Regions from separate parts of the Homo sapiens genome. Here region 2 is linked to region 1. A link means that fine-mapping ties the variant in region 1 to the expression of a gene that starts in the linked region. Tissue or cell type: whole blood. Region 1 holds a variant in brackets; the other region holds the start of a gene. All regions are shown on one strand. Distances are between the middles of the regions.

Region 1 (2,752 bases):
ACCATCTAATCAGCTGCCAGCTTGGCCAGAATAATGCAAGCAGGAGAATGTGGAAAGACTAGACTGGCTGAGTCTTCCAGGCTTCCTCTTTCTCCCGTGCTGGATGCTTCCTGCCCTTGAACATCGAACTCCAAGTTCTTCAGCTTTTGGACTCTTGGACTTACACCAGTGGTTTGCAAGGGCTGTTGGGCCTTCAGCCACAGACTGAAGGATGCACTATCGACTTCTCTACTTTTGAGGTTTTGGGACTCAGGCTGCCTTCCTTGCTCCTCAGCTTGCAGACGGCCTATTGTGGGACCTCACCTTGTGATCATGCAAGTCAATACTCCTTAATAAACTCCCCTTCACATATACACTTATCCTATTCTGTCCCTCTAGAGAACCCTAATACACCCACATTCTGGCCAGTTACACCTCATCCCTTTCGTCCTTGTCACCTGGGTCATCAGGTTTTGTGAGCTTTGCTTTTCCAGAACCGAAGGCCTGCTTTGGGGTGGAGGGGCTGTGTACCAGGAGGGAGGGCACTGACACTGAGGAGTCACACTGTGGGCTAAGGGCAAACCCCAAGGGCAACCTCCCCACCACACAGATGGGAACCAGAGGCTCCAAGAAGTCTAAGGACTCATCAAGGTCAGGTGGAGATGGTCGGTGGAGATGAGATGGGAACTCACGTCTGTCTGACTCTGAAGCGGGGGCATTTTCCTTGGGGCAGGAGGATGCCCGGGGACTGTTCTCTACAAAAGCCAGCTTCGTATGAACAGCTGGAGGGACGCGTGCCACGTCAGCTACAAAACACCCACCTGACACCGGGTGGACACCTGCTCTCTCCATGAACGAGGGTGAGAAGGAAGAGTTTACACACAAAAAAGAACATGCTGTCCATCTAAGAGTTTTCTTTTTTTCCCGTAAAAATTAGACGTGTATCTCATTTTGGAAAAGAGAAGAACAAACTAAAGCTCTTCATAAAGATCTTTCGTAAGGCTACAAACGCCAATACCTTCTCCCTCTTTCCCGGCTTTGGTTGTTTGGCACGAACTGGCATTTTTTGATCGAGTCATAGCTCTGGGATCTTACCCAGGCTTAATGAAGACGTGTCCTGTAATTCTGGATCATCCATATCCCAGGTGGTGCTGTACTGGTTTCAACACCTTGTCTTCCTCTGCTCCATCTTTCCCGTATGGAACTCTCCCATGACCGAATGCCATGATGACTTATAGAGGGGGCTCTTCCCACATCAGTGCCGAGGACACTCCCTGGAGGGAGCACATTCCCTGCAGATAACGTGATGCGGACAGGAGCTTACAAACAGGACATCTCAGGAAGCTTTCAAACCCAGAGAAAATAATGCCAGCCTCACAGTCAGACGATACATTGAAAACCCAAGAGAAAATGAGTAATTTCCACTTGAATATAAAAGGGATTCTGTCTCTGATAACTTCAGTTGGGGAACAGATTGGACACTAGCATTTAGTAAAATTCACTCCAAGATTAGAACATTTTAAATATAAAAATAAGCCTTTTAATGAAAGAGTGTGTAAATAGCCCTGGGTACATCCACAAAACAACGAAAAAGCATGATGGCGGGGCTGCGTCTGGGTGGGCCTCCATAGGCCATGAGTGCCCAAGCTCATAGGAAGTTTG[A/G]TACAAAATTTTTTGACTTGTAAATAATGCAATTGATCTCCCTCTCAACCAGGAACATTCGAAAGGAGGCTGTAGTACGTAGTAAGGATTTGGGGGCTCTTTTGAAGTGATGTGGATTCTCCTGGCTCTCGTGCAGAGGATGGTGGATTTACTAGAATGAAAGGACAGACAAACCTCCCCCCACCCACAGAGGACACCGGGCTGCTATTTGAACAGGTAAGTCCCCAAACCCATCTGTAGGAGATTCACATTTGCTGCAACATGAAGGGTTCAAAACCAAAACTGGGACCTTCTTTTTTCCAGCTTGCATCTTCTAATGATTCTTGGTATGGCTAAAATGTCCCTACAAAGATAAAACAGCACATTGCGGGAATTAATTTACCTTGGCCAAATTAATACACCTTGGCTATATATACATTTGCCAACACAAAGCACTACATTTAAAATGACTACTTGTAAGTGATAACTTAATTCCTGAGGTATCTGTTTATAGATATATTAATATATATTACATTATAATTAAGATATTTAAAGCATTTCCAGTAGTGACTGGTACACAGAAGACTTTCAATAAATGTTACTTCCCTTCTTTCCTATAGTACTTTGAGGAATAGCAAGAGAATGAAAATACTATTCATATATTCATAAAATAAATTTTTAAAAAAATGTCTAAATATTGAATCAGGATTCAGCACAAAAGCAACACAAAAGTGGCTCCTCTCACCAGGGACATCCGGGAGTAAGAGAGGCTCACGGCAATCCCCACCAGGGCCCCTCCGGCCCCCAACCCATTTCCTAGAGCAGGCCTCTCATCTCCTCACCTTCACCCGCAGAAGTAACTGGGAGAACCAGATGGCTGGGGATAGACAGTTGGCCAGACACTGTACCACTGTGCAATGAGAGGCTCGTCAGCATCTAGGAATCTCTGTCACACTTGGCCACATATCCTGGCACATAGCAGCGTGGCACTCTGGCCCACAGGCAGAGACAGGCACAGCCTCCCTGTCCTGAAAGGACTCCACCATCAGGGCAACAGGCTCCTGAGCTGGCTGCAGCCCAGGAAGGGTGGGGTAGGCTGGGCAGTGGGGAAACAAAGAAGTCCAGTTCTTGA
Region 2 (2,752 bases), 47 kb after region 1:
ATTACTATACTACATTACTATACCATATTATTACTATATTACTGGGGTAACCTGCACCCTAGTAATATAACAATTGGTACCTGGAGGAGGGGTGCGGCTGTGATAGAAACCTAAGTGGTACTGGCTTCACGGCCAGGCAGTGAGTAGTGAGGAAAGAGATGGTGCAGGGTAGAAAGCTAGTCATTCCCGCTACGCAGTAAAGACATCTAAAAAAATGCTGCCTGTATTAACTGGGAAGACGGATCCTGCACTTACCAAGCCTGTGTAGCTCTAGAAGAAAAAAAAAAGCAAATATGCGGTATGTTGGCTGCTCACTGCTGCCCCTAGCGAGGAACTTTGAAATAAACGAGGTTAAGTAAGAACTGGCCAATTTGCAAGCAGAGGTGGAAGATAAAATACAGGAATGCCAAGCAGCTCTGTCTTCCAGCTCCAATCCTGCAGTACTTCTTTCAGTGCCCCTAAGACGCTAAGCTCCTTCCTCCAACACTGTTTTTTGTCACCTCCCATCCTGCCTACCCCCGGTCATCCTTCAAGTCTCACACATACCTGACTTACCCACGCACCCTGGGATCTTGTGCAAGTCTCCCCATTACCATCTCATCTTACCCTCTGCTCATCAGTTAATGGACTCAGCCCAAGAAGCACTAACACGCTCAATGCCGGGTAATTTTCTGCGCGTGTTCGCTCCCCACGTACTCGTCCCCCAACACCCAGCCCTGGGCCTGGCACGTGGCAGGCGCTCAGTGAACGAGACTCAGGAACAGTCAGGTGTAGACGGCAGGAGAAGACATGACACGGATACCAAGCACCCGAGGTCCTGCAATGAGTCTCGGCCCATGTTTTAGGGAGCCTGGGTCTGGAGCCCCAGTGAGCGTGTGGGTCAGGAAGGTGCCCGAGCTCCGCGCCCGACCGCGCAGGCGCGAAACCGGGAGAGCGGCGTCACAACCCCGCCCTAACAGGCCACGCCCATCACTGGCCACGCCCTCCCAGGGACGTACGCGAGCGTGCGAGTGTCTTGGGCCAGGCCTCCTCACAGGCAGGGCCGCGCCGGCAAAAACGAGGCGCGGTGGGAACCCGCCCAGGGGCCATCCGCCCTCCCGTCCCTAACGCCCAGGCCCCGGGGGCTCACCACGTCCCCCGGAACCTGCAGATCCTCCGCCCTCCGCTGTCGCCAGCGGCCGAGCGCTAAGCTGTCCATGCAGCCCCAGGGTCAAACCCTCCCGGCATCTCAGGCCTGGCCGAGGCCCGCGCACCACGCCCCCTTCCGCACAAGGCCCTGGGGAGCCAATAAGGAGAGGGAGGGGCGGGACGCCGCGGGAAGCGCGAGAGCACCAAGGCGAGGACCGCAGGCAGGAGTAGCAGAGACCAGAGTCTTCTGAGACTATTGGGATGCTGTGGGCGTTGTCCGTCTGCCCCAAGTCATTACTTCGCAGAGAGGTCCCTGCATATCTCTGCTTGTCGCTTCTCCCTTCACAGGAGCAGCCGTGGGGCTCTAAAGAAAGCATTCTTTCAGGATCCCGCCAAACTTTTGACAACACCCCGTGGATCGGCTGGAGGAGCGCCCGCCTCCTCTGTCTTATGATTGGTTGTTAGGCCTCGTGGGGAGCCGTCTCCCTGTGGCTGGTTGGCTAATAGATGGCGCAGCGGGTCAATTAGCTTGAGCGAGACAGCGGGTGTTTCTGGGAGTTGTGGTCCGCAGGGCTGCCTCGCTTCCGGGTGGGAGCTGCTGTTGCCGCGGTGGGAAGACGCAGAGCTTTCAGGCCAGCCCCGCGCGGCTCACGGCTTTTGTGGCTGGTGGCTGGTGGCTGCTGGTTGGGAGGCCCCGGAAGGACTTCTACTCCTCCGTAGGCTGGAGGGCACTAGGAGGTCGCAGGTGCTGAGCTGCCGGGGCCTTTGGGCTGTGCTGAAGGGGAAAAGCGCAGCCACTGTCGGGAGTGTGTGCTGTGGAGGCAGTTGCCGCGGTGATGTTCGCTCCGCCTGGCCCCTGCCGGGGATTCAGCCAACCAACCCTCAACAGCCGGCGGCGGCTCAGTCTCTGGCCCGGCGCGGTGCTGAGCACCACTGAGCCCTCATCTTAGGGCACCGAGGCCCGGACTCCTGCAGCCGCATGTCCAGGCCCCTCCTGCCTTAGCACGGAGCTCCCTTGACTGCTCCAAACAGCCCAGACTGGCGCCTTTTTTGGATAAATTAAAACGGGGCCAATCCGTTGCCAGCGATTGGCTAACGATGGGTACACGACCTAGTACGGGCCAGGGAGAAGTAAGCGAGGTCTGTTGAGGCAGAGTTTCGGGAAAGATCTTCTAGTTAAAAGGGGAGTTGGGTGGGTGGGGGCTGTTTTCTTCCTGTTGTCCTTGCCCAGTGTAAGTTTCCTGGAGCTGCAGCAGCCTTTTTGTCACCATGAGGGCAGCTGGTGGGAACCCTAGGAAAGCAGGAAATCACCTAGAGCCGGAACAGCCTGAGCCTCTGAACCAACCCACAGCTGACTACCCGTCACTTTGTCGTGTCTCTGTGATTTGAGTCCATCATTCTGCTGCAGTTGAAGGTATCCTTTGACAAAGCCCTGTTCTTAACCATTATGGTGAAACGCATGAATCCCTCTTCGGGCTATTTGCTGCATGATCCTCAGCAAATTAAATAGTTAATCTCCCTCAGTTTCCTCATTTATAAAGGATAGGATGATAAAGCATAGAGATCGTGAGGATTACATGAGGCATTTACCTAGAAGATACTTAGAACAATGCTGGACACAAAC

What was found. PIP is the estimated chance that this variant, and not a neighbour inherited with it, causes the effect.
Region 2: C10orf143 starts here. The variant in region 1 is fine-mapped to the expression of C10orf143 in whole blood (TOPMed, PIP above 0.99).

Annotation. Positions count from the first base shown.
Region 1 is chr10:130,062,400-130,065,151 of GRCh38, forward strand. C10orf143 (chromosome 10 open reading frame 143) reads right to left here. Exons shown (of 4, transcript NM_001355042.2): 4 at 1,497-1,984. The coding sequence ends at 1,955. Among named protein-coding and RNA genes, the nearest start is that of C10orf143, 47 kb to the right of the region's middle. The variant A/G (reference allele first, on the strand shown) is at 1,642.
Region 2 is chr10:130,109,575-130,112,326 of GRCh38, forward strand. It overlaps C10orf143 (chromosome 10 open reading frame 143), which reads right to left and starts at 1,256. Exons shown (of 4, transcript NM_001355042.2): 1 at 1,130-1,256. The coding sequence starts at 1,198. LOC102724883 (a long non-coding RNA gene) reads left to right here and starts at 1,719. Exons shown (of 3, transcript NR_188169.1): 1 at 1,719-2,542. RefSeq lists enhancers at 311-420, 581-760, 1,621-1,950, 2,431-2,560 and a silencer at 951-1,330.